Regions from separate parts of the Homo sapiens genome. Here regions 2, 3 and 4 are each reported to be linked to region 1. Evidence: microRNA targets listed by miRTarBase, many of them from high-throughput screens and not tested one by one. Region 1 holds a microRNA gene; each other region holds the end of a gene's coding sequence.
The links. The annotated mature microRNA hsa-miR-301a-3p reads CAGUGCAAUAGUAUUGUCAAAGC and lies in region 1 at 1,133-1,155, opposite strand. An mRNA with a match to its seed (bases 2 to 7 or 8) in the 3' UTR can be bound and repressed. Matches are read on the target gene's strand: a 7mer-m8 pairs with bases 2 to 8, a 7mer-A1 pairs with bases 2 to 7 and ends in A, and an 8mer does both.

Region 1 (3,000 bases):
CCACAAAGGAGCTTTTTGTAAAGTAACAGAAATGTTCTATATCCTGGCTGTGGTGGTGGTTACATGACTGTATACATTTGTCAAAACTCGTCAGTTCACTGGGCATGCCACACCCCTGTAGTCCAAGCTACTCAGGAGGCTGAAGTGGGAGGATTGCTTGAAGCCAGGAGTTCTAGGCTGTGCTGCATTATGATTGCCTCTGTGAATAGTCGCTGCCCTCCAGCTGGGCAACACAGCAAGACTTCGGCTTTGCTTAACAAATAGCTTACTTACTTTTATTTTATATAATTGTATCTCAATAAAATTCATATTTTTTAAAAGTGATGAATCCACACTATTGTATCTCATAAGAATAAACTGTAAAACAAACACTCTTAGGTTTTAAATTCAACCATTTCCTAGACAATACACAAAATTAACACCAATTAAGATTTGGAGGACTAGGCACAGTGGCTCACACCTATAATCCCAGCACTCTGGGAGGCCAAGGCAAGAGGACTGTTTGAGCCCAGGAGTTCAAGACCAACCTCGGCAACACAGTGAGACCCTGTCTCCACAAAAAATTTCAAGAAAATATTAGCCAGGCATGGTAGGACACGCCTGTGGTCCCAGCTACTTAGGAGGCTGAGGAGGGAGGATTATCTAAGCCCGGGAGTACAAGGCTGCAGTGAGGTGTAACTGGGCCACTGCACTCCAGCCTGGGCAACAGAGAAAGACTCTGTCTCTGGAGAAAAAAAAATGACTTGGGGCAAGTAACTGCAGGAAAAATATACAGCAGAAATTGTTTCCATCACTACCAATTCATCATAAAACTCAAATAAAACCTAAAGTTTGACAGAACCTATCCAAATATGTAACAGAAAGCAACAAATTATAAAGTATTACTCATTTAGACAAACCATAACAACTTAGATATAAAAAATATTCTCCAGACGTGTTTCATAATGCAGTAAAATATTGTTTTTAATTAGTTAAAAGGTTTTTTTTTTTCAAATTATGACTTTCTAAAAGATATACTGTTAGTAACAACATTATAGTTCTCAGCAACAAAGGTTGTGGTAAATTATTTACTGATACCGAAGAAAGATGTAAGGTAAGAATCAAAATTCTGGCGTGCATCCTGCTTTCAGATGCTTTGACAATACTATTGCACTGCTAGCTGTAAAGTACAGTAGTGCAATAAAGTCAGAGCATTCGTTAGCAGTAATAAGTAGGAAAGGAACACAAAAGCATCTTGCATCGGTTGAAGCTTCAGTGAGAAACGAATTTAAAGTAGGGTTGCCATTTTGGACAGAAAAACATCCAAAACCAAAAAACATTTATATCAATGTTTTTTTAAAAAAGGATAAGACTTAAATATCAAAGTGATGTTGCTTATTGATGACTAATATACAAATTAACATTCGAACAGAAACATGCATAGATGTAGAAAGGAATTTTGTAAATATGCCCTAAGCCTTAATAGTAATTAGAATGGGTATTGTTAATACTTTAGGATTGGTATTAACAAAACCAGTTATAATTACTACTAAGGCAAAGTTGTGAAAAATATTTTTGTTCTCTGCAGAGATGTTGGTTAGCTCCTTCTTCAAGGCAATTTACTGATTAAACGCCATGTAAAACAAGCCCTTTGAATAAAAGTATCAAAGAAAACAAATGAAAAGTAAAATAATAAGTTTCTCAATCTCTACATACTCAATCTATCACTCTGGAATCTAAACCACTAAACAAAGAAAACACAAAAGCACTTACCATCTTACAGCTTTTTATCTTGAGTTTACTAAGGGCTGTCATAACAACAGAAGGGAATCAATGTGCTCTAAACAGAACATTAACCCTATCTAACTGAATACTATCCAAGGGGATTTTAAAATTTCAGTTAACTCCTGAAATCTTAAATAGAGGCAGAAAGCATCTCCATTTCCTTCAAACTTAGAAATGTCAAAGAGAAAATAATGATGGGGGGAGGTGGGACTGAGATTTAAGTAACAAGTTTCCTTAGTTCCAAGCTAATTGACATTTTAACTTTTTTAACGGATAAGAACCCAATCAGAAGTCAGATGTAAACCCAGAAACAGAAATAGTATCATAGTATCACACTGCATTACCTTTTGTGTACAGTCACTAGTAGTACCACGAAAGAACAAAGCTAAACAAATACCACCCCATCATTAAGTGAAGGGGAAAAAGTCAGAGAACAAAGATTGCCCTACAATAAGCTTATTCCCCCATTAGTAATGTTGATTGATGCAAAAATATATTTTCATTATTTTCACCAACCTCCCTTTAAACGGTCCAATTCAACTACTTAGTCGGATTGAGCCTACTAAGGAAATGGGCTCATACAAAGGACAGCTGAAATATAAGTGTCTTGGTGTCAAATCCTGGGCCACATAACTAAAATATTAGAATATTTAACGCTGGTAGCCAAGTTTCAGGTTTTAAAGACAACTGTTTAAAAGATAAGTGTTTAACTTTCTGAATTGGAAGTTATTACAAACAAGAAAAATATTTAAAAAATTTAAGGTATTAACAAAATTAGGATAAACACTTTCTTTTCAAATTAAATATTATGCATTTCCTTTTACCTTGACAAATCCTTTATTTAACTGATGTAAAACCAAAAATCAGAAGATAGCACAGGAATCATTTACTCTTAAAATCTTATAAAATAAACTGGTCCACAAGTATAACATTTTTTTCTAGAAGCACATGGTAAATCTGAAGATGAGATGCACTGTCTTTTATTATCTAGTCAACACAAAGCAGTAATAATTAGAGCCATGATAAAAATTCATTTCTAAACCCTAATAATTATGGAAACAAACTAATAACCTGAAAGGAAAAAAAAAAAAGCTACCACTAATTTACTTGCAAGGATGTAAGAAAGGAAAAAAACCTCATTTCTTTTTTTCCTGTCTTCAAAAAGAATTTAAATACTACCCCATCATTCAAACAATACCTAAAAGTTTAAATGTCTGGCTACCTTATAATTTTCTA
Region 2 (3,238 bases), not on the chromosome of region 1:
GAGCCTGGCACACTCCAAATACTTGTTGTTTGGTGTGGACTCTGTTCTTTTTCACAGGCTGGTATGAGGGGGAACGACTACGAGATGGAGAAAGAGGCTGGTTTCCTATGGAATGTGCCAAGGAGATAACATGTCAAGCTACAATTGATAAGAATGTGGAGAGAATGGGACGCTTGCTAGGACTGGAGACCAACGTGTAGTCTCTCAGATGGTCTTTTGTTACTGCAAGATTTGCACGACACTTACCGGGCTGGTTGGTTCTGGGCTAGTTTTATTGTTAATTTTGTCACAGCCTATTTAATTAAAAGAACGAAAACACTTGCCTTTAAGCTTGCCAGGTTGTTCTGCTCTCTCATGAGAAGAGCTTGGATACAGTGAGTTTGCACAGCTCAGTTTTTACCTAACCACACACTTGCAGACCTCCTGAGGTACACAGAATAGCTGAGCAGTTCACTTCAGGGATCAGGTCATCTCTGCTCCTCCTAGTTTCACCATGTTCTGGCAATAAAAAACACATATTATATCCTGGTTTTCTCTATCCTTGCATTACTAAGGTGACTGTCTCTCTTTATACATCCTTGTATGGTTCTCCCAGTATTAGCAAGATTGTATATCTGTAAAGAATGTCCAGTTTTGTAAATATTTCCCTGCCTTTTTTTTTCTTTTTTTACATCTGATTTTAATGCTTCGTTAACTTCAAAAGGAACTGGTAGAGTTCAGAAGGTGAGCTGTTGTTTTTCTAAACCTCTTCCCAGGAAGGGGACATTGACACTTGAATTTTTGTCACCTTTTTCCTCATTAGAAGGAAAGTAGAAAGCCTTACTTTAGGATTTTTAAAAAAAAATCCATCTCACCCCATATTGTTCTTAAATAAGTATAGACTAATTAACCTAAGCTACCTTTAACAACGTAGAATTTAGATGGGTTCATATATGTGAGAAAAACCTGAATATAGGACAGGGGTCCTACTTTTTTCCCCACCTCTGTCGCCCAGGCTAGAGTATAGTGGTGTGATCTTGGCCCACTGCAACCTCTGCTTCCTAGGTTCAAGTGATTCTCCTGCCTCAGCCTCCCAAGTAGCTGGGATTGTAAGAGTATGCCACCACGCCCAGCTACTTTTTGTATTTTTAGTAGAGACAGGGTTTCATCATGTTGGCCAGGATGGTCTCTTAACTCCTGCCCTCAAGTGATCCACCAGAGAGGAGATCCTCGGCCTCCCCAAGTGCTGGGATTATAGGCATGAGCCACCGTGCCCAGCCTACTTTCTAATTAATTAAAAAAAAAAAAAAAAAAAAAAAAAAACCTTCCCAAATGAGCTGATAAAAAACTGACGTGAGGCTGCTTTGCCTTCAATAATACCTAGTTTTCAGCTGTTCCAACTCGTTTCCAAATAGAAATTAGCTGGAACACACTACAGTAATCTCAAGGAAGGGAAAATTAGGCCTTAAAAGATACCAAGAAGTCAGCATGGTACCCAATTGAAACCTTTTGACCTTAGTGGGAATTCATTCTATTTGCACTAAAAGCCTTAACTTGCTGTATTCAGAGTCCCTCTTAACTGTGAGTTTCTATAGAACTTTACTTTTTCCACTAGTGCACAGAGAGAGAAAGGTTATCTTAATAGTCGGTTTCATGGAGATGAAGGATGGGAGATTAAGAGGGGGGAAATGATTTTTACTGGCAGCTATATTCCCTCTCTGTTCTATTTGCTTTAACAAAGGGATAAAACCTGGCAAAGTGTACATTATTGGAGGACTCAAATCTGTATGTGACATGTCCCAACTACTGTCCGCTAACTAGTTATCCAAATTGTAAAGCTACAGAAGCCCAGTTGAGGGGTAAGTGTGCCTGGCTCACACAGCCTGCACCCTGTCACCTCGGCAATGAGCCAGTGTGGGGCACTGGGGACTTCTAACCCTTGGATTGCTCTTTTTGACCTGTGCATACCTTCTAATTGTAAAATATATTTCAGACCGTGAGTACCTTGAGATCTGAGCAACTGTGTTAATGAAGTAATAGCAATGGTCCACAGTGAAAGATGTGTTGGGGTTTGCAAAACAAGCATTCCGTCACCTCTTTAATAATGTCACAGACTTTTTAAAAGAGAGGCTATCAAGTTGTAATATAATCTGTCATGTTTTATTTAGGAAGGAAGGTAAATTTGTGCTTGCACGGGGATCATTTTGTATTATTTTTGCTAATACCCAGTTGAAGCTAAAAAGCAACTATTTGAATCCTGTGAATTAATTTATAAGAATGTTAAACAGCTTTGGAAATACATGCATCTTATGAATCATAGCCTTATTTAGCAAGATCAATGTTAAAGTGTTGTTATATGGCAAGTATTTAACACATTCACAGTGTTTGTTTGATTTCAACTGTGAATTGTCTTAAGTTTTTTCAAACCTAGTTGTTTCTATGGACACCTGCTCTGAATTGTACATTGACTTCATTACTAAAGAACAAAAATGTTCATTTTTGTCCCAGTAAATTGAGACTGCTTGTACACTTTCAGAAAAATATGTGAATTTATAAAGATTTTGTAGATACTTGTCCTTTTGTGCTGGTGTGATTTATTTTACTCTAGGTTGTTTTCAGTTAAGTATACAGTTTCCTGGGTTTTTGGCCAAATCAGAGCTCTATTTAAAAGGTATCTGTAGCTAACATTTCAGAGGACTAATCTTTTCTCTTTGGGTACATGCTGGCATCAGCTGCCCTAGAAGACTAGAACATTTTTAGGAGATGGGTCATGCTGTTTCTTCTCGTAGTTGGCATAAACCTGCAGGACTAAATCGCTTATCTTACATAGTGCACAGTTCCCTTATCCCCTGGAGCATATTCTACCATTCATTTGGTCACCTCGTATCTGAACCCTTGTGTTTGTGAAATTTTACCACCTTGTGAACCTTGGTAGAAGTAAAAAAATGACTTCCTTGACATTAGTTTTTTTTTTGCTGCATAACAAATTGCCACACACTTAGTGGCATAAAACAATACCCATTTAATATCTCACAGTTCTGTAGTCAGAAGTCTAGAATAGCATGGGTGGGTTCTCTGCTTAGAGTTTCACAAGGCTCTAAGTGTTGGCTGGCTGCTTTCTTACCTGGAGCTTGGTGTCTTCTTTCAAGCTCATTTCTGTTATTGGCAGGATTCACGTCCTTGCTGTTGCTGAGCTGAGGTCCTTGTTTGCTTGCTGGCTGTGAGCTGGGGGCTGCTCACAGCTTCTAGAGGCCCTTCA
Region 3 (3,238 bases), not on the chromosome of region 1:
CCCAGCTAATTTTTTTGTATTTTTAGTAGAGATGGGGTTTCACCGTGTTAGCCAGGATGGTCTCGATCTTCTGACCTTGTGATCCGCCCGCCTCGGCCTCCCAGAGTGCTTGGATTACAGGCGTGAGCCACCGCACCCGGTCCCAGCCTTTTTGTTAGGAAATAAATAAATCTCACCTAGCCTTTATGTCAGGTCATGTGATTGGACTAAAACCTAGGTTTCCTGACTAATAAGTTGCATGCTGTTTTTATTTGATACACTATTAGTACTACTGAGGTTATGTAAGTGATTTTGTCAACTTAGAATTGTTTTACTGTATATTTTGTGTTTTCAGTTTATCTGGCTCTAATAAGGCATTTTACAAATGTAATTGACAAGTACCTTTATTTATAGAACAATATGATGCGTTTGTGAAGTTTACGCATGATCAAATAATGCGACGATATGGAGAACAGCCTGCTAGCTGTAAGTATTTCACCTTTGAAGTTATAAACTGAAAATAAGACTGTCTTTTAAGGAGAAGACATTATAATTATTTTCATACTCAAAAAGAGAATTCAACAAAATTACTGAGAATGTATGGAGGAAATAGGCAGCATAACTTTGCAAGTCTTTTGGTTACTTAAATACCTAGGGGCAAAATTGGGAATCAAGATCTAGTATTCGTTTGGATTTTGACCTGTATTTTGCACTAATTTTCTTTTTCTCACCCTTTAGATGTTTCATGAATCACGTATCCTGCATTTGTGGGCTGCCTTGTTCCTTGTTGAGTTGTTGCAAGAGGTCCCAATTATGACATGCAGCAATGCCAATACCCCTTCTGTGAATACAGGTTATTTCAAGCTTTCGTCAGTGGCAACCACTCTTAGGCAGCAGCAACTGGTTTTGGAAATTTCCCTGATGTCAGTACCACCTGGATGTGGACCTTTGCTACCTGTATTAATACCAGTGGCCTCATTTTGCTGTATCATTACAATTTGGCTTCTTATATTAATGTTTGAAAAGGATTAAAGCTGGTATTCTAGAACATGCCCTTCACTGGTTGTGTAAATAAAACTGTAGAATGACACTTCAGATGAAGTTAGTGTGATTTTAATTGTGCACTACAACCGAGCTGTAACCAGTTACTAATTTTAGAATGTAATCCCAGGACAATATTAAGCAAATAGCCTGCAGTGCTTCCTGTGAAATAGTGAAGGAGGAGGGCATTTCTGTATTCCAGGACTTCTTGGGGTTTCAGAATGGGTTTGTATGATTTTTTTTTTTTTTGTAGTTTTATTTATTCTATCAGTCTTTTTAACAAATGTTTATTGCTGCATTTTTTTTTTTCCAGTGTATCATTGTTTTACTGCCCTTGTAGTACTGGAATTTAGTTGGAAGAATAAAACATTTACTTCTATTTTGCTTGTTTCTTAATGTACAGATGGGGTTAGTATTTGAATAAAGTTGGTGTTTTAAAACGTAAGCATTTTCCAGGAATCAGTGAAGTTAATTTTCTAAGATTTGAGTGCTGTTTCAAAACACTGAGTTCTGATTCTAAATGCCTTCTTCTGCTGGGCGCGGTGGCTCATGCCTGTAATCCCAGCACTTTGGGAGGCCGAGGCGGGAGGATCACGAGGTCAGGAGATCGAGACTATCCTGGCTAACACAGTGAAACCCCATCTCTACTAAAAAAAAAAAAATATATATATATATATATAAATTCCTTCTTCTGTAACTTACTGCCTGATAGAATGTTACAGGTATTTTAATTGCTATAGAATTACCTCAGATATCAGTAGGATCCAGTTTTTTCTTTTAAGAACTTGATATGCAAAAGCATGATTCAGCAAATTTGACTCCCTTTCCATACATGGTTTCTAGACATAGCTTTCTTATAATGAAGTAAGCAAAAACATGCTTCAGTGAATTCATTTGTTGAATTCTAGTAGCATATTTCCAAAATTTAAGACAATCTTAAATACACATTTATAACTGACCAAGTTAGAAGAAAAAGGAATTTTTTTTTTTTTTTTTTTTTTTGAGATAGAGTTTTGCTCTTGTTGCCCAAGCTGGAGTGCAGTGGCACGATCTCGGCTCACTGCAATCTCTGCCTCCCAGGTTCAAGCGATTCTCCTGCCTCAGCCTCCTGAGTTGCTGGCATTACAGGAATGTGCCACCACACCCGGCTAATTTTTTGTATTTTTAGTAGAGACAGGGTTTCACCATTTTGGCCAGGCTGGTCTCGAACTCCTGACCTCAGGTGATCTGCCCACCTCGGCCTTCCAAAATGCTGGCGTGAGCCACTGCGCCCAGCCAGACCTCTTTTATTTTTAGCTTTGGTAATTACATTTCACCAATTCTCTGTTTAAAACAAGCCTAGAAAGTGGTTTCACAAGGTGCCCAGGCAATTTATATGCCAATTAGTGGTTGAGAAACATTGGTATAGCACAGGGTAGCAATAAGGTGCATGATTCTATGCCCTTCCCCCCTACTTTTTTTTTTTGAGATGGAGTCTTGCTCTGTCACCAGGCTGGAGTGCAGTGCTGCCATCTCGGCTCACTGTAACCTCCGCCTCCCGGGTTCAAGTGATTCTCCTGCCTCAGCCTCCCGAGTAGCTGGGACTACCGGCATGCACCACCACGCCCAGCTAATTTTTGTATTTTTAGTAGAGACGGGGTTTCACCATGTTGGCCAGGATGGTCTCGATCTCTTGACCTCATGATCTGCCTGCCTCAGCCTCCCAAAGTGCTGTGATTACAGGCGTGAGCCACTGCGCCTGGCCAATTCTACCCCCTTTTAATGGTCTAGAACAGAGATTCTCAACTTCAGCACTACTGGCAGTTTGGGCCAGATCATTCTTTGTCGTGGTGGCTATTGCTGTGCATTATAGGATATTTAGCCACATCTCTGGCCTCTACCACTAGAGGCCAGTTAAACCCCCTCCCACAATTGTGATAACCAAAGTGTTTGCAGACATTGCCAAATGTCCCTGAGGGACAAAACAGTTCCCAGCTAAGAACCACTGGTTAGCAGGATAGCCTGTAGTCCCAGCTACTTGGGAGGCTGAAGCACGAGAATCGCTTGAACTCAGGAGGCAGAGGTTGCAGTGAGCTGAGATCATGCCACTGCACTCCAGTCTGGGTGACAGAGTGAGACTCTGTCTCAAAAAAAAAAAAAAAAAAAAAAAATTTTTTTTTTTTGCTCCACAGCCAAATTTCTGCATTATCACTTATGCAAAAGTCCTAGCTTATGGGCT
Region 4 (3,238 bases), not on the chromosome of region 1:
TCCTTAACTCATTCTGTAAGGCTAGCATCATTTTGATACCAAAACCTGGCAGATACAACAAAAAAGAAAACTTCAGGCCAATATTCTTGATGAACATTGATGCAAAAATCCTTAACAAAATACTGGCAAACCGAATCAAGTGACACATCAAAAAGCTTATCCACCACAATCAAGTAAACTTCATCCCTAGGATGCAAGCTTGGTTCCACATACGCAAATCAATAAAAGTGATTCATCACATAAACAGAACTAAAGACAAAAACCACATGATTATCTCAATAGATGCAAATTTTCAGAGGCTTAAAGTATTTATCTATATAATTGGGAATGTAGACTGTCCTGGATTTACAACTGTCCGACTTACAATTTTTCCACTTTGCAATGACTTAAAAGCAATGCAAATCCAGTAGAAGCCATACTTCAAGTACACATATAACTGAATTATTCATTCAGTTTCAGTCCAGCATTCCATAAATTTCATGAGACAGTCAACACCTCATTATAAAATCAGCCTTGTGTTAGATGATTTTGCCCAACTGCAGGCTAACATAAGTTTTCTGGGCATGTTTAAGTTACTCCAGGCTCAGCTATGATGTTTGGTAGGTTAGGTGTATTAAATGCATTTTCCACTTAATATATTCTCATCCTGCAATGTGATTATTGGGATGTCACCCCATCATAAGTCGAGATACATCTGTACATGCTTCTACTTGCTTTTTTTCTTAATTTTGAAGAAGGCTCAATAATTTCTGTGCTGGGTCCTAAGCACATATGGAATGGTGATCAGATTAAAAATTATCACTCATAAAAGACTGAGAAAAATTTCCTCTTATTCTCATTGGTTTTCTGAGCTTCCTTCCGCCCAAGAAAAGCAATAAATGCACTGAGAAAGAGTGTTCACAGGTGTTATAGGGGGAGAAGTGGGAGGTGGGACACATATGTAGCTGCCTCCTCAAGCAATTGGAGACATTGTCTCATTCCTGCGCAGCCCTGGGTCATGAGAGTGTGGTCCCATTCCATGCAGACCTGAGACTAGGATGGCTCACTAAGGCCTGGGACTGAGCCCTGAGTGCCACCATCACTGCTGGGCTGCAGAAATCATTCAGGTGGCTGAGTAGGGGACAGAAGACATGGTATTCCCACCCACAAATGGACCATGTGGACTCAGGAAGCCCGTATGTTCTTCCAAATGGTGGCTGTAGCTCCCCATCCCTCTGCAGCATCATAGTGAGGAGAGGAGGTGGCTCCTCCTACCAAACAAAGAAAGCACATCCTGAGATTGAATTTTCCAATCTTCAGGCAAGTGGGGGCTCAGAGTCAGAGTTCATTTGATTTACAAAAATACAGAAATGTGATATTTCTTGGAACCAAAGCTATGGAAACTCATGTGAACACATTCACGATTTATTAAGCTTAAATCATCTTTATTCAGCTCAGGAGTGGGGTGGCTGGAAGCATAAGCTTCAGGTCCAGGAAGATGGGTTTGGATCCAGCCTCTGCCACTTGCTCTCTGGAATAATACTCAAAACATTTAACTCCTCCAAGCTTCAGTGTCCTTATAAAAAATGAGGAAACAATACTGGTCCCGTGACATTGTGTAAAGATTGAATAGTACATAATATGCTGTATTAGAAGTGCTTGTCAAGGTTCTTGGCAAATGATAGGTGCTCAGTCAATAGCCTCTGTGTATAGTAACAGTTCTGGTAGTAATTTTGGTAGCTGGGGGGATGGTAATAACTGTGACAGCAACAAGTATCTTATTCCCATTTCACAGATGAAGACATAAGCTCTGGGAAAAAAAAATCTTCAACTGTCACTGATTACCTTGCCCACCCCACGACATATCCTAAGACCTGGCACGTGATAATTTTAATGAAATATCTGGGTGAATGGATTAATGAAAGGAGAAAGCAGAGCCAGTGGTGTGGGGGGTGGTGTGAATGCCCACTGAAATCTGAAGTAGGGTGCAGATTTGTTCATCAGTTGAAAGTTACTCGGGTCACATCTGAAGGCGGCTCTAGGTCACCCTAGAGGCCTAGGCTGGCTGTCTTCAGGTCAGGGGGCTGAGTTGCCATTCAAAGACTCAAAGGAGTGAATCGTACACATCAATCATGGGGTTGGCTTGGCCACCACCCTGCTGGAACACTACCTGGCCTTCTAACCTCATGGAGAGCCTGACCAGGCCTGCCACAGAGACCTCAGAGTGCCAGAGAATCTCCACTGTGTCCTTAGCTCTGCACAGTCAGGGCTTCCCCGAAGTCTGCCTCTCTCTGTCATTATGCTTGGCCAGGATTGCTCATCCTGATGGCACTGGGTTGCAGAGAGAGAGCTGAGGGGACCAGGAGGCAGGCACTTTGTGTGACTTTGGAGGGTCCTTCTACCCCAAGACCTCACTGCTGCCATCTGTAAGTGAAGGAACTGGACCAGATGGGGAATAAGGAGGGCTCCATCTCATGTCGAAGGCCAAGGCTAAGAGTGGCTGCCTGGGGTGCAGTGCTGGGAGAGTTTGCAAGGGGAGTGTCAAGGCTGGTCAGTGATTATGGGGAAGAGTCAGGGCCCATCAGAGGAATGAAGTGGCTAAGGGTGCCTCCAGTCCCAATAGCCACAAGTGAATTCTGTTGAAAGGGAGTTCTAGCATCTCACAGACCAAGTGGAGCCTCAGGATGGAGGCCGAAGGCCAGAGAGCGTCCTCCCTGTCCCATGGCCTAAATGCCTCTCAGAACTCACAGATGGTCAGTCGGGAGTACAGGCAGTTCCTGTCATTCCACTGCCCATCTGTGTACATCTCCACACACTGCTCTTTTCCCCGACCTGCGGGCTCCCCTCGGTACCAGTTGGTGTAGTTTACAGGGGTCCCGTCTGAGTAGCGGAAGTCTCCAGGGCTGGGACCCTCAGTCAGGCCTACATAGGCATATGTGTTGTACTTCTTCACGAAGCTTGCAATGGCCTCATTTTCCTCTGGATTCCTTGGGACAGCAATGCGGCCGCCTGCTCTGGCACATGCCTCCTGAATGGCATCAAAAGTGATGGACTGCCCATTGCTGGAGAAGACCTTCTCTCCTACTGTCATTATGGAGCCCTGCAGACTGAGGGCTGAGAGCAGAGGAGTCCGGGTCAGGCCACTGACCACTTTGTCTCTAAGCCACCTCCCTCACCTGGGGTCTCTGCTACCAGATTCTCCCCAGTCTCTCCATCTCTGCCTCTCTCTGTGTCTTCTCTTCCTCTTCCAATTGCAGTT

Region 2: the mRNA of ARHGEF26 is a reported target of hsa-miR-301a-3p. Seed matches in the 3' UTR shown: 8mer at 1,515-1,522.
Region 3: the mRNA of AKIRIN2 is a reported target of hsa-miR-301a-3p. Seed matches in the 3' UTR shown: 7mer-A1 at 1,100-1,106.
Region 4: the mRNA of SFTPA1 is a reported target of hsa-miR-301a-3p. The part of its 3' UTR that is shown has no 7-base or 8-base seed match.

The regions. Positions count from the first base shown.
Region 1 is chr17:59,150,017-59,153,016 of GRCh38, forward strand. It overlaps MIR301A (microRNA 301a), which reads right to left and starts at 1,205; the gene lies at 1,120-1,205. The region is part of intron 1 of SKA2 (spindle and kinetochore associated complex subunit 2); the gene reads right to left. RefSeq lists a silencer at 84-163.
Region 2 is chr3:154,255,274-154,258,511 of GRCh38, forward strand. ARHGEF26 (Rho guanine nucleotide exchange factor 26) reads left to right here. Exons shown (of 15, transcript NM_015595.4): 15 at 58-2,552. The coding sequence ends at 200. Among named protein-coding and RNA genes, the nearest start is that of DHX36, 68 kb to the right of the region's middle.
Region 3 is chr6:87,673,087-87,676,324 of GRCh38, reverse strand. It overlaps AKIRIN2 (akirin 2), which reads left to right. Exons shown (of 5, transcript NM_018064.4): 4 at 394-465; 5 at 718-1,465. The coding sequence ends at 728. It also overlaps a transcript of ORC3 not described here. Among named protein-coding and RNA genes, the nearest start is that of AKIRIN2, 28 kb to the left of the region's middle.
Region 4 is chr10:79,613,592-79,616,829 of GRCh38, reverse strand. SFTPA1 (surfactant protein A1) reads right to left here. Exons shown (of 6, transcript NM_005411.5): 6 at 1,387-3,093. The coding sequence ends at 2,717. Among named protein-coding and RNA genes, the nearest start is that of SFTPA1, 4.3 kb to the right of the region's middle.